Linked DNA regions of Homo sapiens: regions 1 and 2 are each linked to region 3. The links come from fine-mapping of genetic effects on gene expression. A gene starts in region 3. Each other region holds a variant in brackets. All regions are shown on one strand. Distances are from middle to middle. Region 1 overlaps FCHO1 (FCH and mu domain containing endocytic adaptor 1). Region 2 overlaps UNC13A (unc-13 homolog A). Region 3 holds the start of FCHO1 (FCH and mu domain containing endocytic adaptor 1).

Region 1 (8,175 bases), 24 kb before region 3:
GGTCTCCACCCACTCAGCTCTCCCTTGAACGGGCTCCAGCCTGGCCCTTTCCTATGGAGGGTGCCAGGAGCCCTTGTTGACACTACTGGGGACCTCGGGTGGTCACAGCCCACAGTCCCTCTGACTCGGGGGCTTCCCATTCTCCTCAGACAGCCCCCAGGAGCCCATCCCGCCGCTCTCCCCCCATCTCCTGCTGTCCTCCTGTCTCCAACCCCTCTGGGCTCCCCGGCTGTCCTCTCCTCTGCTCTCCCTGGGCGGCTGCTCCTCCTGTTTTGATGACGTCTTCAAGGAGGGGGTGCTCTGACCTGACCTTCCCCACACTCAGGGTCCACTGTGCACCTGACACCTAAAGGCACAGCCTCGACGTCCCCCACCCCTCCCTGACTCCACCCCTTCCCCATCCTCCTCCCTCCCTTGTCTCCGCCCCTTCCCCATCCTCCTCCCTCCCTTGACTGTCCCTTCCCCATCCTCCTCCCTCCCTTGACTCCGCCCCTTCCCCATCCTCCTCCCTCCCTTGACTCCGCTCCTTCCCCATCCTCCTCCTTCCCTTGACTCCGCTCCTTCCCCATCCTCCTCCCTCCCTTGACTCCGCTCCTTCCCCATCCTTACTCCTCCGAACTCTCCCCTGCAGCGACCTTTCCACCTGCTTCTCCCACTGCCACCCTTACCCCCATCGCCTACTTGCCTCCCTGGTTGCCTCCCCAGTCTCTGGTTTCTGCCCTCACTCCCGAAGCTGCCAGAGGGAGCCTGTGACCCCTGAGTCAGGTCCCGCCCCTCCCCTGCTCATGGCCCTCAGCGTTACTCAGGGTAACATTCACAAGCCCTCCCTGGGCCCATCAGGCCCTTCCTGGTCCCTGCCTTCTCTTCTTCCTCCTTCCGTGATCACCCCGTTCCAGCAGGCAGACCTCCTTGCTGTTCTTCAGACAGGCCTAGCGCGCTCCTGCCCCAGGACCTTTGCAGGGGCTGTGCCCTCTGCCCAGCACGCCTTTCCCCTCATGTCCACGTGGTTCTGTCCTCACCTCCCTCAAATCTCAGCTCAGATGTCCCTTCCTCAGGGAGGGCCCCCACCTGGCACCCGCTACCGCCTGCCTTGCTAAATGTCCATCTCATTGTTGTCCCTGCAACGGTGGGAGGTTCTGCCTGCCTGGTCCTGGCTGTGTCTCCAGCAGCCTGATCAGGCCCTGCCCAAAGCAGGCGCTCAATCCCCCGCCCAGGGTTCCAGCAACTCTCAGGCCCAGGCCCGCTGGACTCACCTCCTCCGGCCAAGGCCTCCAGCCCCCAGGGGCCTGGAGACGAGGCGAGGGGCTGCGGCGAGTCTGGCAGAGGCGGTGCCCGGATACCCCTGGCCTCTGGGGGTGGCGCCCTACAGCTGGGCGGGCTCTGCGGGGTGCCTGGGCGGGGGACCCAGGAATCTGGGGAGGGGCCAGGTGCCGCGTGGGACGGAGAGTCCAGGCCGGAATCCTCCACGTTTTCGGGCGACGAGGAGGAGAAAGGGGAGGGGCTGGAGGTGAAGCCCAGGCTGCTAGAGCCTTGGGGAGGGAAGCGGGCGGTCAGCTCCGACCCTCGCCCACTCAGAGTCCCTGCCCATCCTCCTGCAGGCCACGGCCACGTCGAGGGAAGGTCAGGGGGGCCCCCATTCAAAGTCCTTGTGCACGCCCCCAAGGCTACACCTTCTGGTGACTTCCCTCTCCACAAATGTCCGGCCCATCCACTCAGTCACCGCCCACTGGCCAAGGCCCCACCCTATCTATGGCCCCTCCCACGCGCACTCTGGCCCCGCCCACCCCTACACGGACTAGTCCTCCCTCCAGCCTGGCTTCCAGGGGACCTCATTGGCCTAACTCTGCAATGGCCCCACCCAACCTCCCTCCGGCCACACCCATGCCCTCCAATCCCTTATCCCCATCACCTGTAAAATCTTCGTGGTCAAAGGCTGACTCCAGGGGCGGCCCAAAGAGGTTCTTGGACACCTGCTCCTCTGACTGCAATCTCTCTGCACAGCTAGAGAGGGTGAGGCCAAGAGGGCTGCTTCTATTTTTCCCAAGCCTCATCCCACCCTGGGGCCTTTGCACATGCTGTTCCCAGTCTTTTTTTTTTTTGAGACGGAGTCTTGCTCTGTCGGCCAGGCTGCAGTGCAGTGGCACGATCTCAGCTTGCTGCAACCTCCGCTTCCTGCGTTCAAGCGATTCTCCTGCCTCAGCCTCCAGAGTAGCTGGGATTACAGGCACCTGCCACCATGCCCGGCTAATTTTTGTATTTTTAGCAGAGACGGGGTTTTACCATGCTGGCCAGCCTGATCCCAAACTCCTGACCTCAAGTGATCTGGCTGCTTTGGCCAGTGCTGGGATTGCAGGTGTGAGCCACTGTGTGCAGCCTGTTCCCAGTCTGGAGTTCCATTTCCCCAGCTCTCTTCACAGTCACCTCCTAGCTCCTCTTTGGGGCTTAGCTCCAAGTCACCCCCTCAGGGAGGTTCCCAACCCCACCTCAAGGGAAGTCACCTCCTCCTGTCTTCGCGTCATCTGCTTTAGTTTCTTCGTAGCACTTAGAAGTATCGAATATGCTCTAACTTATTTGCTTTTTTTTTTTTTTTTTTTTTTTTTTTGAGACGGAGTTTCCTCTTGCTGCCCAGGCTGGAATGCAATGGCACAACAGTGGCTTACTGCAAGCTCCGCCTCCCAGGTTCAAGCGATTCTCCTGCCTCACCCTCTCGAATAGCTGGGATTACAGGCATGTGCCACCATGCCTGGCTAATGCTGTATTTTTAGTAGAGATGGGGTTTCTTTATGTTGGTCAGGCTGGTCTCGAACTCTCGACCTCAGGTGATCCGCCTGCCTTGGCCTCCCAAAGTGCTGGAATTACAGGCGTGAGCCGCCACGCCTGGCCCTATTTGCTATTCTTAAAATCTGGAGTCACTAGAATGTGACTCTGAGAAGGGAGACCTGTCTCAGAACCCAGACCCTAGAACAGCACAGGTACACAGCAGGCACTCAATAAATGTTCATCAAATGAATGACTAAATGGTCCCTCAAAAGCCAGCATGGGCCAGGCACAAGGGCTCATGCCTGTAATCCCAGCACTTTGGCAAGCCGAGGTGGGCAGATCACTTGAGGTCAGGAGTTCGAGACCAGCCGGGCCAACATGGTGAAACCCTGTCTCTACTAAAAATACAAAAGTTAGCTGGGCGTGGTGGTGGGTGCCTGTAATCTCAGCTACTTAGGAGGCTGAGGCATGAAAATCGCTTGAACTCAGGAGGTGGAGGTTGCAGTGAGCTGAAATCGCACTCCAGCCTGGGTGACAGAGTGAGACTCTGTCTCAAAACAAAAACAAAAACAAAAAAACCCCAGCATGACGTCAACTCCCAGCCGGGACAAGAGAACACCAGG[C/T]GGAGACATGGGGAGGTGGAGGGAGGAGGTGGGGACAGCCCCCACCTGCCCACTCGTGTGGAACCCACCTGCTGGTTCTGGGGGCAGACCGAGGTCTCTGGGGTTTCCCAGCAGCGTCCCCTACAAGAGATGCACCTCCTTCAGCCTTCTTGTCACCCTGCCTGCAATGCTCCCCACTCCACAGACCAAGGGACCGAGGCTCGGGGGTGTCCAGCCAGTTGCCCAAGGTGATCAGCAAATCAGGCAGACATGGATTCAAGCCTAAGCGAGCCTGTCTCCAGATGCTAGCTTCTCCTGGCCCCAGCTACCCCTTTCAGCTCTCACTTAATTTCATAATGACCTCATTTTACAGAAAAGGAGACTGAAGGTCAGTGTGGTTAAGCAGCCTGCCCAAAGTTACAAAACGGAGTTATGATTCAAGCCCAAACCCATAGCCTCCCTTCCTTAGGATCCTCCCCACTCTGAAGACCAAAGGCTACTCACGTGAAGAATGGCGTTTCATGGTGCCCTGTGGACAAAGTGGGCAACATCACACACGAATGCATCCAGCCAGCCTCTCTAGCAACACCCAGGGCACCCCTCCCACGCCTCACCCCTGGGCCAGGAGGAAGGATGAGGCTGCCCGCGGTGGCCCTGAGCTGTGCCGCTGCTGCCTCGGGGCTGCAGGCTGGAGCCCGGGCCGGGGCAGGCTTGATGTGCACATAGAACTTGCGGGGCTCTTCATCGTCGAAGTCGGAGTCGCTGGACGAGAAACGGGAGGGCTCGGCCGTGCGTGGGCTGCAGTCAAGGTCCAAGCCAATCCCAACACAAGCTTTCCCCCAGTCAGCTCTCCAATCCAGCCTCGTCCCTCCCTGCTCAAACCCTTCGAGGTCCTGCCCAATCCCATCGCTCACCACGCGCCACCTTCAGTCCTGACACCATGTCCCACCAGCACTCCCACCCCCCCCGAGAAGCCTTTGCACAAGCATGCCCAGAACTAACTGGCAAACTCCTATTCGGCTGCAAAACCCCAACACTGGTGCCCCCTCCTCCAGGAAGCCCTGCTAGATCTCCTTTTCTCTCTCCCTCTTGCCCAGTGCTGACCCCATAGAGTGGGTGTTTACATTTAGGTTGGCTTCATCCACAAAGGAGACTCTCTCCAGGATGTACACAGAGAGGACTGCTGAAGGTGGACTGGTTATTACGGAGAATTTTGTCCTTGCTGTGCCAACAACTGCCCCCAGGGGGTGCCAGAAGGATATTGTTCTGGGTCACATCAGGCCGGACAGTGAAACCTTCTTCATCCACCTCTGGACATGTCTAGGGGAGTCAGGGGGCAGCAGTGAGTCAGGCGCCCCACTATCGAACCTTCCATCTCACCCTGCCAACCGCCCCCCGCCCTGCCCCCAGGCCTTGACTCAGACCTCAAAACCAACCCTGATGGCAACGACTGTCTTCCCTGGGTGTGTGGGCAGGTTCCTGGGACAAACTGAGCTTCGGCAGGGACATTATTCACACCCACGTAGTCCATGGGACTTTGCAGCTGAGGTGGGATATGAACCCAGCCCCCAGGCTCCAGCCCGCCCCTCAATCTCGGCTCTTTAGTTTCCAGTAGGGATCGGGACTCTAGGAGCCAAGAGTGGGATCAAACTCCTTCCACTTGTAGCCCAGCCTGACCCCTCCCACATCACTCACCCCTGAATCGGGCTCCAGGAAATCTCTGGGGATGGAGGAAGAGATGTTGGTGTCAGCTTCCGCAGCCCATCTGGTGCCCCCTGTCAGCCCCCAACACTGGACATGGAAGCTGGGGCAGCTCCCAGACTGTGATACTGCCCTGAGCTAGCCCTAGAGGCGGTGGGACCATGGGGCTTGCTTGGGGAGGGGGTTGAATCTGAAGTTAGCTGAGTAGAGAGTGTTCTCAAACAGCCTGGGAGGGAAGGAATCCTGGAACTCATTTGAAGGGCTGCCTTGTGAAGATAGGGAAAGTCGGGGCTAGCCTTGGCAAACAGAACAATCCTGGGCCAGCTTGGGCAGGGAAGATGCTACGTTACTCTGGGACAGGCAATTCCTGGCCTAACCTAGCAAAAGGAAGAATTCTGGACTAGCTTGGGCAGCGGTAATATTGAGCTAGCCGGGGGCAGAGGTACTCCTGGTCTAGCTCAGGTAGAGGGAATCCTGGTCCAGCCTGGAATATGGATACTCCTGGGCTATCCTAGGAGGGGACTTCTGGGATAGCCTGGGCAGGGGAGGGGATCTCGGTCTAGCCTGGGCCAGACCGGGCAGGGGTGCTTCCTCACACAGCTGCAGGTGGCTCTGGCTCCCGCTCCCGCCGGCTTAGTCCTGGAAGGCGAAAGGCCTTGGCTCCCCGCAAACGTTTCATCGCTGAGGATAGATTGGGGGGCACCTGAGCACTGTGAGCCTCCTTTCACATTCAGATCAGCCTCCCTCACCCCCATGGTCCAGCCTGGGCATCCAGGCCCAGACGTACTTGCCTTCCTGCAGGGCAGCCGCACTGTATGCCTCGAAGTCCAGAGGTCCTGAGACAGGAGACGGAAACTCAATTGAGGGGCTGGGCACGGTGGCCCATGCCTGTAATCCCAGCACTTTGGGAGGCTAAGGCGGGCGGATCACCTGAGGTCAGGAGTTCAAGACCAGCCTGGCCACCATGGTGAAACCCTGTCTCTGCTAAAATTACAAAAAAGCCGGACATGGTGGCAGGCGCCTGTAATCCCAGCTACTGGGGAGGCTGAGGCAGGAGAATCGCTTGAACCCAGGAGGCGGAGGTTGCAGTGAGCCGAGACTGCACCACTGCACTCCAGCCTGGGTGACAGAGCAAGACTCTGCCTCAAAAAAATTAAAAAAAAAAAAAAAAGAGAGAGAGAGAGAGAAAGAAACTAAATTGAGGGTGGGGAGACTGCGCTTGGAAAGGGTAGTACACTTTTGGCCACAAAATGGCACCTGGATCTGAACTCAAGGTCCATCAGGTTCCCGGACAAGAACCAGCCCCACATCATCAGAAGTGGGATGGACCAAGGGGCTGGTCTGGTTCCAGCAGGGCAGTGCCACCGCAGGGGGTGACATGAGCTACTTCTACATACTTCCAGCATTTGTGGCTGGAACTTGGGTTGGGTCGGGGAATGGACCATGCGTCTGTGCAGTGGGCTGGGCTTTGAGTGACAGGATAAGGAGTGGGAACTCTCTCCCAAGAACAATGGGGAGCCATGGAAGGTGTGTGAGCAGGAGGAGGACAAAACAGATCTGGGGCCTGTGAAGGGCAAGAGTGGGGCCCCATGCAGGGAGGGGAGACCTGAGCCAGGCCTGAGCCAGAGCGACAGGAGGGAGAAAGAACAGGTTTTGCTAGTTAACAAGACTTGAGGACGTAACTGTATACCAGCATTTAGTGAGTGCCTACTGTGTGCCTGGCACACCCTTTGCCCTTTACCTGCATGAAATCACTGAATGTTGCAACATTATTACATCCTCACTTTACAGATGAGGAAACTGAGGCTCAGAGAAGTCAAAGCACAGGTCCTAGGTCACACAGCAAGCGATGAAGAAAAGACTCAAACCCACGTCTCACTCTAAAACTTTTGCTCTTAACTCCTTCCCAGTCCTGCATCTGCGCATTCCCAAATTGTTCTTTTGCTCAACAACCCTCAATGGCTCCCTTAGGCCCTGGGGGTGAAGTCTGATCAGCCAAGCCTGGCATTCAAGGCTCCTCTGGGATCTGGTTCAAAGACATTTACACATAAGATCAGGCTGGAGAGCTGGACTTGTCAGCAGCCCATTTTTCCCATGAAGAAACCAAGGCCTGGCCATGTGCAGTGGCTCACGCCTGTAATCCCAGCACTTTGGGAGGCCGAGGCAGGCAGATCACCTGAGGTCAAGAGTTCGAGACCAGCCTGGCCAACATGGTGAAACCTCGTCTCTATTAAAAATAAAAAAATAAAAAAAAAATTAGCTGGGCATGGTGGCACATGCCTGTCTGCAGCTGTGGCCCCGAAGCCCGACCCCCAATGGCTGCCCTGACTCACCAGGCTTCTCCCGGCCTGTGCCCTTACTCTCTGCAAACTTCCTGAGTAGCATCTCCACGCTGACGTTCTCGATGTTCTGCTTAAATTCCTCATGCACCTGTGCCGGGTGGGCGGGGTGTGTAACTGGTCAAGGCCCCTTTGCCCAGCAGTGACCCCAGCCTCATTCCTCACACCTGCCCAACTCACCTGCCCAATCTGCACGTGCGTGTCCTCCACCGAGTGAGCATATGAGCCCAGCAGTGCCTTCATGTGCCTCAGGTGTGTCTCCTCCATGGCTTGGAAGCGCTGAAGCAGGAGGGCAGAGGCAGGTGGAAAGGAGGTCAGGGCCAAGAAGAAGTGGCCATATGACTCAGCCTGACCAATCAGAATACCCTAAGCCCTTGGCTCAGTGATTGATTTGGGGAAGGGCCAATGAGAGTCTGCCCTAGGACTTTCATTGACTCTACAGGAAAAGGCACTTCCATTCCTGAGCCAATGTGCTGATGGGATGTAAGTGGGGGTTGCTGGTGCCCAGTTTGATGCACACATGTGCATGCTTGCACACACATGCACACACACACACACACAAGGGGATGTCTGTGTGGGAGTGATGTCCCCAGAGAGAAAAACAGACTTAAGAAGCAGAAATAGTGGTCAGCTGTGGTGTATCATGCCTGTAATCCCAGCACTTTGGGAGGCCAAGGCAGGTGGATCATCTGAGGTCAGGAATTCAAGACCAGTCTGGGCAACATGGTGAAACCGTTTCTACTAAAAATACAAAAATTAGCTGGGTGTGGTGG
Region 2 (8,175 bases), 130 kb after region 3:
GAGTGTGCGTGTCTGATCATGTTTTGTCTGGCTTTGTTAACAGGGTATGGCATGAATGTGTGTGTGAGTCCAACTGTGCACGTCTGAGTGTGCGTGTGTGATTGTGTTTCGTCTGGTTGTGTTAACTGGGTATAACATGAGTGTGTGTATCTGTGTGATTGTGTTTCGTCTGGCTGTGTTAACTGGGTATAACATGAATGTGTGTATCTGTGTGTGTCTGTACATATCTGAGTGTGGGTATCTAGCCATGTTTCATCTGTGTTAACCGGGTATAGTGTGAGTGTATGTATGTGTGAGTATGTGTGTTCAACTATACAACACATCTAGGTGTGTGTCTCATATTTTATCTAGCTGTGTTAACTGGTTATAGTGTGAGTGTGTGTATGCTTGTGTGTGTGTCCAGCTGTGCATGTCTGGGTGTGTGTGACCGTGTTTTGTCTGGCTGAGTTAACTGCATATAGTGTGAGTGTGTGTGTGTGTTTGTGCACGTCTGGGTGGGTGTGTCTCACCAGGTTTGGTATGGCGGTGTTGAATGTGCGTGGTGTGAGTGTGTGTCTATGGCTGTGTCTGGCTGTGCATGTCTGAGTGTGTGTATCTGTGGGGGGGGTCTCGTGTGTATATCTCGGGGTGAGGGCACACGCCTTCAGTGTGTCACTGTCTGGCTGTTGCAAATGAAGCCTTCAGGGTGTGAGCTGCAAAGCTTTGGGCTCTTGCAGGAAACTCTGCTACTCCCAGAGTTCCCAGCCCCTCTCATGGACCCCCCACCAGGCCTGGGGTCGTGGGATTACTTGAGTCCTCCTTGCCCCCACCAGTCCCCAGAGATGCCCGCCCCAACAACACGCCCAGGAACCTGAGCACAAAAGCTCCCTTCCATTTGCAGGTGACCCCATGGGACCCCAGCTTCCTCCAGACCCAGACCCTGAAACCATCCCAAGGTCCCTGGCGGTGGGTAGGGGAGGCTCTGGGGAGAGGTCCTGAGGCTTGACTCCCCTCTCTGTTCCCACCCACAGCCCTGCATTCTCATGAATAACACTCAACAGCTACGAGTTCAGCTGGAGAAGATGTTCGAAGCCATGGGAGGAAAGGAGGTGAGGCAGGGCCGAGGCAGGGCTGGAGAAGGGATGGGGCACCCCCACCACTGTGTCCCTGCAGGCCCCTGAGCTCATATGCCACCAGGCCTGGGGATGAATTCCAGCTCAACCATGGCCTTAAACCCAGGCTTGCAGCATAACGGTCTGTGCCTCAGTTTCCCCTGCAGCCCCTTGGGATCCCTTTCCCTGGGTCAGATGAGAAAATGCCCAGTACATGTGGATACTTACTGAACCTGGCCTGGTGTCCCTTCTCCCTCCTTAGCTGGATGCTGAAGCCAGTGACATCCTGAAGGAGCTTCAGGTGAAACTCAATAACGTCTTGGATGAGCTCAGCCGGGTGTTTGCTACCAGGTGGGAGCATCTCCAGGGCTGGGGGCAGTGGGGAGGGAACAGCCTTCAGCCCTCTAAGCCTGGGGCATCTGGAGGCTCAGCAGATGTAGAGGTGAAGATTGCAGGCTCAGAGTTAGACAAGGCTGAGTTCAAATCTTGGCTTTACTGCTTACTAGCTGTGTGGCCTTGGGTGAGTCACTTAACTTCTCTGAGCCTTATTTTTTTTTTTATTGCTCTGTAAATTTGGGGTGATGACAATAATAGTACCTGGGTAGGATTTTGAGAATGAAATGAACAATGCGGGCAAATGTCTTATCCCTTTGCCTGGTTCTGCAGTTACTATTTTCCACTCTTTTTTTTTTTTTGAGACGAAGTCTCGTTCTGTCACCAGGCTGGAGTGCAGTGGCGCGATCTCGGCTCACTGCACCCTCCACTTCCTGGGTTCAAGTAGCTGGGACTACAGGTGCATGCCACCACACCCAGCTAATTTTTGTATTTTTAGTAGAGACAGGGTTTCACCATGTTGGCCAGGGTGGTCTCGATCTCTTGACCTCGTGATCCGCCCGCCTTGGCCTCCCAAAGTGCTTGGATTAAAGGCGTGAGCCACCGCATCTGGCCTGTTCTCCATTCTTGCTCGGTTATGTGCTGTGATGCAAATGATATGACCTCAAGGACCACAGATCAGCATCTGTGTCCTCATCCAGCCCTTCCTGTGGTCTGAGCCCTTCCCTTCTGTGTCCCCAGCTTCCAGCCGCACATTGAAGAGTGTGTCAAACAGATGGGTGACATCCTTAGCCAGGTTAAGGGCACAGGCAATGTGCCAGCCAGTGCCTGCAGCAGCGTGGCCCAGGACGCGGACAATGTGTTGCAGCCCATCATGGACCTGCTGGACAGCAAGTGAGCTGGGCCAGGTGGACTGGGCTGGCCGGGGAGGGGCTGGGGCAGGGCCATAGAGACCCAGGGACTGGCTGGAGAGGGTGTGCAGGGAATGTTTGCTGGGTGGTCACTGGATAGTTGGATGGCTGAGTAGATGGTGGCATGAAGGGGATGGAAAGTTGGGTGGGTAAATAATTGGAAGGATTGGTGAGTAAATATTTGTGTGGATGAATGAATGGTGGATGAATAGGTGACATGAGGGATGGGTAGGTGGGTGGACGCATGGATTAAAAGATAAATGTTTAGAAGGATAGAGGGAGGATAGATGTTTTAAAAAGATGGATGGGTGGATAGTTGGGTAAATATTTGGATGGATTAATAAATGTTTTGATGCATAGATGGATTGATGCTTAGATGGATGGATGTCTGGCAGGCTGGCTTGATGGATGGTTGGATGGACGATGGATGGATGGATGGATGGATGGATGGATGGATGGATGGATAAATGGTTGGATATGTGGATAAATATTTGGATGGATGAATAAATGTTTTGATGCATAAATGGATGGACAGATGGGTGGATGGATGAATAAATGGATGGGTGGGTAGATGGATGGATAGATAGGTGGATAAATATTTGGATGAATGAATAAATGTTTTGATGTATAGATGGATTGATGCATAGATGTCTGTCTGGCTGGCTGGATGGATGGATGGATGAATGGATGGATGGATAGGTCAATAGATATTTAGATCATTGAATAAATGTTTTAATGCATAAATGGATGGACAGATGGGTGGATGGATGAATGGATGGTTGGAT[G/A]GGTGGGTGGGTAGATGGATGGATGCTGGATAGATATAGGTGGATAAATATTTGGATGGATAAATAAATGTTTTGATGCATAAATGGTTGGACAGATGGGGGGGTGGGTGGATGAGTGGGTCGATGGATGGATGGATTAATAGGTGAGAAATATTTGGATGGATGAATAAATGTTTTGATGCATAGATGGATGGACAGATGGATGAATGGACAGGTGGATGGATAGATAAATGGATAAGTGGATGGATGGGTAGAAGGATGCATGGAAGGATGGATGGATGAACAGATGGATGGATGGATGGATAGAAAAAGAAATAGAGAATTAAGGACCACTGGGGGAGGGATGGATTGGTGGGTGACTGGATCAGTTGGTGGATGGATCTTGGTGGACTGCCTGTCTCCTTCAACCCCTATCCATCCAACCACAATCTCTTTGCTGTTTTCCCTTTCAAGTCTGCCCTCCTCTGACCATTCCCCTCCTGTTCCTCTTGGGCATGGCCTTCTCCCTCATAGTCCCTGATCTCCATCCTTCCTGTTTCGGTTCATCCCCCACACTGTTCTTTCAAACATGAAAGTCTGGCTGTGTCTCCCTCTTGAACACTCCATGGCTCCCCACTACCCCCATCCTGATAAAACCCAAGCCTTCCTCCCAGACATTGGGGCCCCTTCCCATCTGGTCCCTGCTGACTAGTCCAACCACCACTCACTCTTCTCTTCATGCATCAGATATCATAGCCCCATCAAACCACCCAGGGGTCCCTGTACAGGCTGTGGGCCCTCTTTCCTATCTGTGGAATGCCTTGCCCACCTGTTAAGGGAAGGTGATCTGTGGGTGGGGGCGAGCTGGGCCCTCTCTCAGACCTGCCCCTCGTCCCCAGCCTGACCCTCTTTGCCAAAATCTGTGAGAAGACTGTGCTGAAGCGAGTGCTGAAGGAGCTGTGGAAGCTGGTTATGAACACCATGGAGAAAACCATCGTCCTGCCGCCCCTCACTGACCAGACGGTGAGACCTGCAGGGGGCCCGAGGGGACATTTAGGCCACCTCCCTGGCGAGAGCCCAGAAAACTTGGTGCCTAGAGGCTGGGGGGTAAGAACAAAGGCATCCGGTCTCAGAGAGGTCATCCAGGCTCAAGGGCCATTCAAGGGTCATGGAAGCCACCAGAGGTCAGTGGGGGGCCATTCAGAGGTCAGAGAGTTCACACAGGGGTTAAAGATCATCGAAGAGTTAAAGAGGTCATTCAGAGTCCATTGTATTTTCTCTGGGGTCAAAGACATCAGGTAGAGTCAAGAGACCACTAAAGTCATAGAGGTCACATGTAGGTCAAAATAGCTTTCAAAGGTCAGAGGTCATCTAGAAAACAGGTCAATTTTGGGATCAAGGTTATCCTTGAGCCACGGAAGGCATAGACATTGGCCAGGCACCGTGGCTCACGCCTGCAATCCCAGCACTTTGGGAGGCTCGAGGCGGGCAGATTGCTTGAGGTCAGGAGTTCGAGACCAGCCTGGGCAACATGGTGAAATCTCGTCTCTACTAAAAATACAAAAATTAGCTGGGTGTGATCCTGTGATCCTGGCTTCTTGGGAAACTGAGGCACGAAAACTGTTTGAACCTAAGAGGTAGAGGCTGCAGTGAGCTGAGATGGCGCCACTGCACACTCCAGCCTGGGCAACAGAACGAGACCCTTTCTCAAAAAAACAAAAAAAAAAAAGAGAAGGCATAGACATCAATGGGTTTTTCTAAGGGCTTTGGGGCTCATTCAAAAGCCAAAGAGGGGAGACACCATGGACTTCAGACATCAGAGATCAATAGACCAAGGGGCTCCTGGAAGTCAGCCAGAGGTCATGGAGGGCATCCAAGGTCAGAGAGGTCAAGCAGAGATCATTGGCCATCCAGAGACCAGGACCGATAGACCAGAGGCCATAATCTCTAGGGACCAAGGGGACCCAAACATCTGTAGAGGGATGTAGCTGGGCGTGGGTCCCTCCGGGAGGCATCAAGAACCTGAGGACAGCAATGGCATGTGGGCTGTGGGCACATTAGGGAGTGGGGAGGTCTTTCCCAGGTGGACCACGGAGGCTTGGGGAGGGTGAGCGGGGGCCATAGATGGGCGACGATGGTCGGGGAGGCTCGGACTTCCCATCCTTCCACCTCTTCTGGGCTGGGCTGGGGCAGGGGTCTTGCCCCTCCGTGCTGCCATCTCTGCCCCCTCCCTGGCCTTCCCGGGAGACTCATGGTACCTTATTCCCCCCTCCCCCACCGCCCCGCCCCCATCACGGATGACAGATGATCGTAAGTAGAGTCCCGTCTGTCCGTCTGTCTGTCCGTCCTCTCTGTGTCTGGACTCGGCCCACCGCGTCGCTGCACCCCTCTCCCCACCCACCCAGCGCCCCCTCCTCACCCACCATCCTCCCTCCCGCCTAGATGTGCCTGTGTCTGTCTGGGGCGGGGCATGGGGAGGGGGCGGGGCTGGGAGGGAGGGAGACCACGCCCACCCTCCCTGTCCCACTGAAGTCCAGAGGAGCCCCACTACCCACTCCCAAACCCCAAGCCCAGCTCCTCCTTCGCAGCGGACCTGCCGTCTAAGGGTAGAATCCAACCTTGCTCCCGTGCCCAGATGTCACCAGACGCCCTGAAGCTAGAAAGAGGATCAACCCCAGGATTCCTCTGACCTCCTCTTTGGGCTCTGAACTGTCAGCAGCTTCCCAGAATGCAGGTCCTCACCATGAGGGTCTCTACTTCTGATTCCTCTGAAATTCCATGCTCCAGACCATTCCTTGGTACCCCACCACCCTGTCTACCCAACTCCCGCCATCCACACCGACACACACCAATCCCAGACATACACCCAGGTGCCCAAGTGGGAGACTTTTGTCATGGCTTTGATGTCAGGTAGACTTGGGGTCAAATCCTAGCCCAGCCACTGTCTCTCTCTGTGACCTTGGGAAGTCACTTGACCTCCCAGCCTCTGTTTCCTTGTCTGGAAAATGGGGCTCATTGCATCACCTCCCTGAGGGTAGTTCTAAGAACCAAATGGCATGATGCATTAAAATACTCATCTCAGTATTGCCTGAACCCAGGAAGCAGAGGTTGCAGTGAGCCGAGATCGCGCCACTGCACTCTCAGTGACCGGCCCAGAGGCAGAGCTAATGGTGGTGGTGGTGGTGGTGGTGGTGGTGGTGATATGCAGACATGTGTAAGAGCAGAGACAAAACAACTTCAGATTTTCCCTTTGTGGGCAAGACAAGGCTGTTACAAGATTTCACTTTGTTAAAAGTTTACAAGGGCTCTTACTTCCTGGTAGCTGCAGCCTGGGTCTTTGGCTATAACCACTTGGTGGCAGCATACCCAACCACAGGCAATGCATTTGTAGGCAGGGGGAATAAAGGAATTCGCATTTAATGACTCCCCATATGCCAGGCCTTCTCATAGCTCCTGTTTCAGCTCACCTTCATGATAACCCTTTGAGTGAGGTGGATATTATTATCCCCATTTTGCAGATGAGGAAAGCTGAGGCTCAGAGAGGAGTCACTTGTTCAAGGTCATATAGTAAATATATGCCAGAATCAGGATTCAAATTCAGATCTGTCTGAATATGCAGCCCATTTGCTTTCCTGTTAACCCAAGAACCAAGAGTCTCATGTGTACAGTAAATGTAAATGGATTATATTTTGGCAGTGGCTTTTTTCCCTTCTTTCTGACTTTCTTTAGCTCTGTATCTGTATCTTTCTCTCTCTTTCCTGTCTCTGCCTCTCACACCATTTAAGAGTGAGTCACTAAAGCGCATGCACGTGTGTGCACACACACAGACACACACACAAACACACTATCCCCATGCAACCCAGTCACCAGTACCCTGTGCAGTGTGGATTCCCCCATCCCCATGAATATTCCTGTGAGCATCCCAGCTTCCCACCCTGCACGACTTGCCAGGTTGATCACCCTGTGACATTATCTCTGCAGGGGAACCTCTTGAGAAAACATGGCAAGGGATTAGAAAAGGTAATGAGGGCCTCGTCTCACTGAGGCCCTGAGCTCCAGTGTCTGGGCATGTGTGTGCATGTGTGTGCGTCTGTGCACCTGGGCAGGAAGGGCAGCTGGGGGTCGTGGGTAGGAGATAGCTCTCCTAACCAAGTCCTGCAAAACCAGAAGTCAGAGATGAAGTGATTCTCCAGGGACAGAACGTGCAGTGTGTGTGTCCACATGTGAACTAATGTGTGTGCACAAACAGCTCCCATCCTCCCACAGCAATACCCACAGGGCTCATCTGAGCCCTGGGCTCAGCTGAAATTCTGTGCCTTCTTGAGGAGCCTACACGCTAGATCACCACCCTGGACTGAGACGTGTTGTTTTTTACGTAGATTTCTTTTTGTTGCTGTGCTAATGGGTGTTTGTTGTTAAGGAGATGGGAGCTACAGCAACACGCAAGCAGCTGTCTTGCTGTACACTTGTGCAGAAGATATCGTTGTACATTTGTGTCTACAAATGGAGTCTTAGCTTTGTGAATGTGGGTCACAGGGGTTCCGTACTCTCTCTGCCAGCCCTTTGCGGGGCACATTCAGTGTCCCAGGCACCCTATATGTGGATGTGAATCCGTGTGGGGTCAAGAAGGGTGTGTGGGTTTTTGTGTGTGATATAATTGTGTACGTGCCTGCAAGTGTTTAGGAGTGCACGTATGTAGTTTAGTGTATGGGTTCTTCAGCACTGAGTGAACTTACAGTATATGTTAATATGTTTTTTGTAGACTTGGGTGCTGGGATATAGGGGCAGCCCCTTAGGGAATGGAGGAGGAGACAGATTCCTAGCCCTGTCTCATCTCCCCACCTCCCCAGGTGCCCCATCCTGGGGCAGGCTGACTGTGGGATGAGGCTGCTTCCAGCCTCCTGGGTACCCCGAGAGTGTGCTGGCAGTCAAGGAGTCTGACCTCTAAACCCCTGCTAGGGGACCAGAGGAGGTGCTAGCTGGGGAGGGGGCCCACCATTAGACCCAGGACCTGGGGAGGAGCTCCTGGGCTGGGAAGTGAGACTGTGCTTTGAGGGGGCAGGGAAGTCCCACTGA
Region 3 (8,175 bases):
TGGGGCTGGGGCTGGGATGGATTCTCTTGGAGACCCCAGCATCTCCTAGGGCTGGCTGGGGATGAGGTCACAGTGGCAGGGAGAGAGGAAATGAATGAATAAAAACAACTCTGTCTCACTCAGCAGCCCTTGGGCTACAGGAGGTGATCTCCAGCCTGGACAGTGGAGGGGTGCACAGGCCATGAGACGCCAGGTCAGGAAAACCCCCCAATTCTCCAGGATGGGAAGGGGGTGGAAGTTCCCTGGCTGGAATGACCCTGGGTCCTGGAAGTTCAGTTTGGCCCTGGGTTTGAGCACTGACTCTGCACTTTTTCATGGGGCAACTTCAGGTTGCCTAGACGTTCCCACTCTGGCCCTTGGTCTCCCTATGACACAAGCTATGACTTGCCCAAGGTTGTAAGGCCTGTGAGGTCTGGGGTGGGTGTGGATTCAAACCCAGCCTGACTCTTCCCACTTTAACTTCCATCCCTTGCAGATCCTCTACCTGTCCAAGGCTGTAACCGCAACTCACCCAGTCCTCCCATCTCCATAAAAGTCCCCACAGCCCTGCCAGCATCCCCCGCCTAAATAAGAGTGGGTCTTACCCAAAAATGCTCCCCAAAATACGACATCCTGATGGTCTCTGTGGAGACCCCTGCAGGCCCCGTCCAGTGCCTGTCTGAAGAGAGAGGCAAGTTTGAGCTACAGAGTCATTGCCAGTGTGGGCTTGGTGGGGGGAAAGTCCCTCCCTGTAGAGGAAGGAGAGAAAGGATGAAGGAGGAACTGAAAGCTCCAATGCTAAGAGCATGCCAGGACCCCTGAGATAATTCAGCCCCAGTGCTGGTCCCAAGTAGCTCCAGTAGAGGGGGACAGAACAAGACACAGATGCCCCCAATTCCACAGAGTCAGAACTGGACTAGGTGGAGGGACAAGAGCTGAGGGAGTCTAGATTGGAGGAGGGGGCATGGAATGTGGGGTTTTTAGGCATGTATAAGAGTTCATAGCAGTGGGTAGGAGCAGTGCTGGATGACCCCTAACCTTGACAGGAAAGCTCTGATCCACTTCACAGATGGGAAAACTGAGCCCTCCCCTCCCCCAGAGGGGAAGTCACTTGCCAAGATCACACAGCTAGGAAGGGACAGTAGATTTGCACTCTGGACTGGCTGAGCCCAGACCTGAGCTCTCAGCTCCACTCCAGGCAGCTCCTGCAGGAAAAGGGTTTGAAGAGAAATAGATGCAGGGGCTGTGATCAGCCACATGGGGGTTGGGGTCCCTGAAGTATCCCTGAGGGTCCCCTGGGATCTTCTGATTCCTCTAGGACAGTCCTCACCTTATGTACCCTCCTGGGAGTCAGAGCTCACTCCTCACTGTGATGACCCAGCTGGCATTGCTGCCCCCACGAGTCCCAACCCTGCCCTCAAAAGCCAGTGTTCACCTGGTGTCTGAGTCACTGTCCAGCTCCGTGCCTCAGTTTCCCCATCTGCAAAATAAGAAGGAATGCTTAGAAGGGATCTTGCCGGGGAGCCCCAGGTGTCTCTGCACAAGAGGCTGGGTCAGGCCGCCCGGCAGGGGACGGACAGGCAGTGTCCTTGGCATGTTCTAGAGGCCAGGCTTGTCACTGGAGCCTGCAGGCCTCATGCATAATTCATGACCCCACAGGCAGCTCGGTAGCAGCTGGGAGCCTCGTAGGAACAGTGGCAGGAGTGACAGGGACCCGTGACCACAGGATGGGGAAGCTCCCGGGGCCTCCCCAGGAAAGGACTGAGCAAGACCTTGGGCAAGGCTGCCCCTCTCTGTGCCTCAGTTTACCTAATCTTGAAAGTTAGTTTAGGCTAGAAGTGGTGGCTCACGCCTGTAATCCCAGCACTTTGGGGGACCGAGGCGGGCAGATCACTTGAGGTCAGGAGTTTGAGACCAGCCTGGCCAAAGTGGTGAAACCCTGTCTCTATTAAAAATACAAAAATTAGCCAGGTGTGGTGGCGGGCACCTGTAATCCCAGCTACTTGGGAGGCTGAGACAGGAGAATCGCTTGAACCTGGGAGGCGGAGGTTGCAGTGAGCTGAGATGGCGCCACTGCACTCCAGCCTGGGCGACAGAGTAAGACCCTGTCTCAAAAAGAAAGAAAGTTAGTTAGTTTAATTGGACCCATTATCATTGAGCCTCCAATCCCGGGACTTCTGTGAGTCACCCAAGACCTCCTACTTGCTCACCCAGACTAGAACAATGTCAGGGTCCCTGAGTTGATTCAGCCTCGGGCCTGGCCCTGCAGGAGTCCCCAGTCTAGAGAGACAGAGCTGGACACAGATATCACCGTCCTGCATGGTCAGGGCTGGGCCAGATGGAGGGACAAGGTCCAAAAGAACCTGGACTAAAGGAGGGCTCATGGGAGTTGGGGTTTTAAAGCATGAATAGGAGTTCACTGGGCAAGGAATTATTTGTTTCAACAAACATTCCCAACCCTGCACTGGTTAATGACAGGGCCCCTGAAAAACTTCAGTCCCCACCACACCCCCTTAGGAAACCTAGTTTGGTGGCAGGGGTAGGGTGGTGAGCATGCTACACTGACATCCCTAGGGGAAAAGCCCTAAATTTCCATATCATTTCTTAGCTTCTGTCCATGACCAGGACCCTAAGCATCTCCAAATCTCTTAGAGCTGTGCTGACTGGCATGGGAACCACTAGCCCCATGTGGTGACTTAATTTTTTTTTTTTTTGGAGACAGGGTCTCGCTCTGTTGCCCAGGCTGGAGTGCAGTGGTGCGATCATAGCTCACTGCAGCCTCCACCTCCCAGGCTCAAGGGAGCCTTGAATAGTAGCCTCCCGAGTAGCTGAGACTACAGGCTCACGCCTGAATAATTTTTGTATTAAGTTTTTTTTATTTTTTTATTTTTTCTGGAGACAGGTTCTTGCTCTGTCACCCAGGCTGGAGTGTGCAGTGGCATGATCACAGCTCATGGCAGCCTCGACTTCCCAGGCTCAAGTGATCCTCCCATCTCAGCCACCCGAGTAGCTGGGACTACATGTCTAACTAATTAAAAATAAATTTTTTTTTTTTTTTTTGTAGAGACTAGGTCTCACTAGTGTGGCCCAGGCCAGTCTCGAACTCCTGAGCTCAAGCCATCCTCCTGCCTGGGACCCCCAAAGTGCTGGGATTACAGCCATGAGCCACAACCCCTGGCCTTAATTTTTGTATTAATTTTTGTATTAATGTTAAACCAAGTAAAATTAAATACAATTGGCTGGGCGCAGTGGCTCACGCCTGTAATCCCAGCACTTTGGGAGGCCGAGGTGGGTGGATCACTTGAGGTCAGGAGTTCGAGACCTGCCTGGCCAACATGGTGAAACCCCATCTCTACCAAAAAATATAAAAATCAGCAGGGCGTGGTGGCACACACCTGTAGTCCCAGCTACTTGGGAGGATGAGGCAGGAGAATCACTTGAACCTGGGAGGCGGAGGTTGTAGTGAGCCAAGATTGCCCCACTGCACTCCAACCTGGTTGAAAGAGTGAGATTCTGTCTTAAAAAAATAATAATTAAATACATACATACATACATACATACATACATACAATTATATGCCCAGCTCCTCAGCTGTGCCAGCCTCTCTTCCAAGGCTCAGTAGCTACATGGGGCTGATGGCTGCTGTATTGGATGGCCAACATTGTTCTAGAAGATCCCAGGAACCAAGGAGCCCAAGTTCCCCAGAAACCAAGAATCTCACTACTGTTTTCACAGTTTCAATTAGATTGCCTCACCCCACCTCTGGCAGACAGATACACATGGAGCACCAGTATGTGTGCGACCCTGTACCCAACTATTCACACGCATCTGCTCATCCAATCTTCATGCCATGCCCTCAGAGGCAACCCCAACTTTATGAAGGAAACCGAGGCACAGAGAGATCAATCATTGGTCCCGGCTGACTGTGATTTTGCCCCTGGTCTGTCTGCCAATGACCTCCTGTTTGAAACCATCACGCGTGGCTCTCTGGGTTTCCAAGCTCCCCTTGCCGCCCCCCTAACCCAAACCACCACTCACAGCTGGAATGGGGGACGGGGGGCAGGGCAACGGGTGGCCCCATGCAGGCTTTGGCCAGCCCAGGAAGTGACACCTGCTACTTCTCCTGAAACCCAGGCTCCGGGCAGGGGGGCCTCCCCTCTGTTCCTGAGGGGGGCCAAGGCGAGATGATGGGTATCTACTGGCCAGGGCTCAAACTCACCGGACAGGGTAGCGAGTGGGATGGGGCCCCTGTCTGACGGGGCAGGCGCCAGGAGACAGCCACGAGGCCACTTCCGTCAGCACCAAGTTGGAGGCTTGTGTGCATGGGTTGGGGGGGGGACAGGAAGCTCACCCCGCCCCGCCTACCATCCAACCGCCACCTTTCCTCCCCCGCCCGATCAGCACCCATGGGACCTCCCTGGAACCACACAGGCCATGGGTGAGTAAACAAGAGGCGCTTGAACCTGGAGCCCCCCGGCCTGAACCTGGAGCTGTTCTTACCGAACAAATATTAATCATGGCAATTGGGAAATAACTGAGCACCAACCCTGGCCCAGGCATTCAACATCTTGCCATCCTGAGGTAGGCCGATACCCACTTCACAGACTGGGCAAACTGAGGCTCAGAGAGGGAAATGCGCTCAGAAAGGGGAAGACATGGCCAGGCGCGGTGGCTCACGCCTGTAATCCCAGCACTTTGAGAGGCCAAGGTGGGTGGATCACGAGGTCAAGAGGTTGACACTATCCTGGCCAACACGGTGAAACCCCGTCTCTACTAAAAATACAAAAATTAGCTGGGCGTGGTGGCCCATGCCTGTAGTCCCAGCTACTCAGGAGGCTGAGGCAGGAGAATCACTTGAACCCGGGAGGTGGAGGTTGCAGTGAGCCAGAGGTTGCAGTGAGCCGAGATTGCGCCACTGCACTCCAGCCTGGCGACAGAGCGAGACTCCATCTCAAAAAAAAAAAAAAAAGAAAAGAAAGGGGAAGACATTTTTGCATTCATGAGCGCTTTCCTTCACTACAAAAGAAATTTAAAATTATATTTTAGGTGGTGGCTGATGCCTGGAATCCCAGCACTTTGGGAGGCCGAGGCAGGTGGATTGCTTGAGCCCAGGAGTGCGAGAACAGCCTGGGCAACATGGTAAAACCCCGTCTCTACTAAAAATACAAAAGTTAGCTGGGTGGGGTGGCATATGCCTGTAATCCCAGCTACTCGGGAGGCTGAGGCAGGAGAATCGCTTGAACCCAGGAGATGGAGGTTGCAGTGAGCGGAGATCGAGCCACTGCACTCCAGCCTGGGTGACAGAGAGAGACTCTGTCTCAAAAACAAAACAAAACAAAACTGTATTTTACAACTACATTGACATAAAGACAAATATATTAATATTATACACAAAAATGTTTCCTTCAACCCAAGAGTTCATTTTTTTCCCTTTGGATTTTAAAAGAAGTGAAAACATCAACCTAGGGACCCCTAAAAGCACTGTGAGCCTGAGACACTGGGCATTTTGGGTCTGATGGAGAAGTCAGCCCTGCTAGAACCCAAGTCTCCCAGCCTGTACAGTACCAGCACAAAGCCCAGAGATGGCCGGAGACTTGCCCAAGGTTACACAGCACATTGCCAGCTGACTCAGAGGTCCCCATCCTGCCTTCCCGGCACCAAGTCTTGCAAACCTGGGGCTGAGACATGTGAGCAGCCCCAGAACAGATAAAACAAAGCAGGAACCACATCAGCAACAAAGGCAAGACCCGAGCTCCCATCCTGGGAATCGAGTGGTGCCTGGCTGGGTGTCCGGAGCCGCTGACGTCTTGCCTGATGACCTTGGGCCACTCCTGACCTTCCACGATCTGGCTTCCAGGATCCTGGGAAACAGGATCTCACATTTCCCTCTCTCTTGGACCCCAGTGTATGTACAGTAGGGCCAGTAGCAAGGGTTTTCTCATCCTTCCCACGGACCAGTCACTTGGTTCAAGCAGGTACCATGCTGTTTCAATGACCCACTATGTCATGTCTCCCCTCTTGGCCTCGCCACCTGGGCTGCGATCACAGACAATCTGGCTTGATTCTCGTCACCACACCTCAAGGCAGTATCTTATCTCAACCAGCACCACGATGGGGAAACTGAGACACGTGCCCCAGGTCACACAGTGACTCGGGCCACCAAGTGGGAATCTGAGCCAGGGATTCTCAGAAATTTTCTGTCCTCCCCATGGGTCCCCTCCCTCTTCCTCACTTCATTTGGCAAACATCTATTGAATGCCTACTGTGTACCCAACTTTCCCAGGTGCTGGAGTCTCCTCAGGCAATGCCTTTGATAGACTCCCCCTTCCCCTCCCTCCTCCTGGTCAGCTGTGACCCGATTTAAAGAGCACTAATACTGTCATTAATATTATAATAATCATGTCTGTATTTACAGAGCTTCCTCCTCCCACAGACTCCTCCCATCTTCCCAGAGGAATTCAGCCCATTTCACAGAAGAACAAACAAAGGCACCAAGGGAAAAACACACACACAGGTAGAGGCAAATTCAAACCTGGGGGTGTCAGACTCCCAGCCCCATGCCCACCACTGGGAGGGCGCTCCAAGGGACAGGGAATGAGCTGGCCTGGCAACTCCCACCCCCTCCTGCCCAGGACCTCGCCCGAGAACAGGTTCACCCCTGGCGTGGGTGATGGTATGTGGGTCAGGGTGTGCCCTAAGTGGCCCCAATGGTGAGACCAGGGTGGCGATGCCCCATCCCAGCCATTGCAGCTTGGTCCTATGTTTTACTCCCTGTCCCCATGCCCTCAGCCCCAATATCAGAGTGTCATCATCAACCCATTTTGCAGTGCAGTAAACTGAGGCTGAGAGGATAGCAAGGCACTGTGGGAGGGTCTCCAAACCCAATGCTGTCTTGACCCCAAACCACCCACATGTTAAGCAAAAGAGTGAATCACCATTGGACAAAATGTGGGCTGGGTGAGTTCAGAATCTGTAAAATGCAGGGTCCGAAGCTCCCAACCTCAATTTTCAAAAGAGGAAACCGAGGTTCAGAAAGGTGCTGTCACCTGCCCAAGGTCACCAGTGAAGCAGGTCCATTCGACACTGCCTCCTGGTCCCCAGTGCAGCTGGGGCAGGTGACTCGGGGGATCCAAGGCAGATGGAGGGGTCCCCCACCCCCCAAGCCTCCTCCGCACCCCACTCACAGCCAGCCTCTGGCAAGATCCTAATTTACCTCGATTTATTTTAATCCCCAGAAACAGATGCTAGCTGTACACCCCGCCCCTCAGTAAAAGAGGGACCCCCCCCCCAAGTCCAGGCTCCAGGCCCTTCAAGGCCTGGCCTGGATAAACCGTGCCAGGCAGGGGACCCCACAGTGACCTCCTCCCCAAAATTCCAACCTTGGGGTCCCCACAGAAGATGCCAGTGAAACGCCCCCCACCCCATCCTTAAGGTGGAGGACTGGGATGGGGCAGATTAGAGGAGGGGCCAGGTGACACCCCAGCTCCTCCAGCCACCAGGCCTGGATAGGGGTTCACAGTGGAGGAAAAGGGAAGGGGTCCCTCGTCTCGGTCCCCGGTGGTCTGCAGGCCGGAGCTGGGAAGAGGGAATCTGCGGGTGGTCCCCATCTCAGCCACCGCCCAGGGTTCCAGGCTGGAAGGGGAGCGGCGCCCCCATCTTTGCAGCCCCAGAACCCAGACCTAGGCTTAGAATAAAAGAATTTGGGGAGGGGTCTCGCGTCGTCGCCGCCCCCGTGCACGCTCGGTTCTAGGCCAGGAGACGGGGGATTTGGGGAGCGGTCCCCATTTTCGCCTGCGGACCCCCAATTACCACTTGGAGGGGGAAGCCGGGGCGCCCACCGCGTAGCCCCAACCCCCTGCTCTCCATCCCTCGCGTCCCGCCGCGCCTTTGCCCTCCGCAGCCGCCGGGGCTGCAGGGCACGGTGCGCGTGGGAGGCTGCGCGGGCCAGGGTATCCCAGGGGGTTCCGGGGGGCAACACTCACCTCCTGAGCTCGGGCCGAGCCCCGCGCTCGCCGCCACCTGCGGCTTGGTCGCTGACACCGGAGCCCGCCCCGCCCCTCCCTCCGCGGCTGCGGCGCGGCTGCCGGCGGGCTCCGCCCCCGGGGCGTGGCCTAGAAAGTCCCCACCCCCGCGACGGCGCCAGGAGGCAGGGCGGGCTCTGATCCCGCGCGGCCCCCCATTGGGCCATTTAGGCGC

The links. PIP is the estimated chance that this variant, and not a neighbour inherited with it, causes the effect.
Region 1: its variant is fine-mapped to the expression of FCHO1 in whole blood (Lepik 2017, PIP 0.93).
Region 2: its variant is fine-mapped to the expression of FCHO1 in whole blood (TOPMed, PIP above 0.99).

What each region holds. Positions count from the first base shown.
Region 1 is chr19:17,771,963-17,780,137 of GRCh38, reverse strand. It overlaps FCHO1 (FCH and mu domain containing endocytic adaptor 1), which reads right to left. Exons shown (of 29, transcript NM_015122.3): 10 at 7,583-7,681; 11 at 7,397-7,493; 12 at 5,855-5,899; 13 at 5,660-5,744; 14 at 5,058-5,082; 15 at 4,625-4,682; 16 at 3,977-4,155; 17 at 3,867-3,891; 18 at 3,452-3,503; 19 at 1,910-2,001; 20 at 1,254-1,529. Among named protein-coding and RNA genes, the nearest start is that of B3GNT3, 19 kb to the left of the region's middle. RefSeq lists an enhancer at 3,372-3,711. The variant C/T (reference allele first, on the strand shown) is at 3,384.
Region 2 is chr19:17,620,776-17,628,950 of GRCh38, reverse strand. UNC13A (unc-13 homolog A) reads left to right here. Exons shown (of 44, transcript NM_001080421.3): 32 at 1,011-1,088; 33 at 1,354-1,442; 34 at 2,166-2,318; 35 at 3,999-4,122; 36 at 5,404-5,409; 37 at 7,081-7,119. Among named protein-coding and RNA genes, the nearest start is that of UNC13A, 63 kb to the left of the region's middle. The variant G/A (reference allele first, on the strand shown) is at 3,121.
Region 3 is chr19:17,747,601-17,755,775 of GRCh38, reverse strand. It overlaps FCHO1 (FCH and mu domain containing endocytic adaptor 1), which reads right to left and starts at 4,299. Exons shown (of 29, transcript NM_015122.3): 1 at 4,199-4,299; 2 at 1,415-1,459; 3 at 1,095-1,184; 4 at 585-658. The coding sequence starts at 611. FCHO1-AS1 (FCHO1 antisense RNA 1) reads left to right here and starts at 4,379. Exons shown (of 5, transcript XR_007067152.1): 1 at 4,379-4,560; 2 at 5,026-5,118; 3 at 6,413-6,493. RefSeq lists enhancers at 1,101-1,620, 1,621-2,141 and a silencer at 7,827-8,175.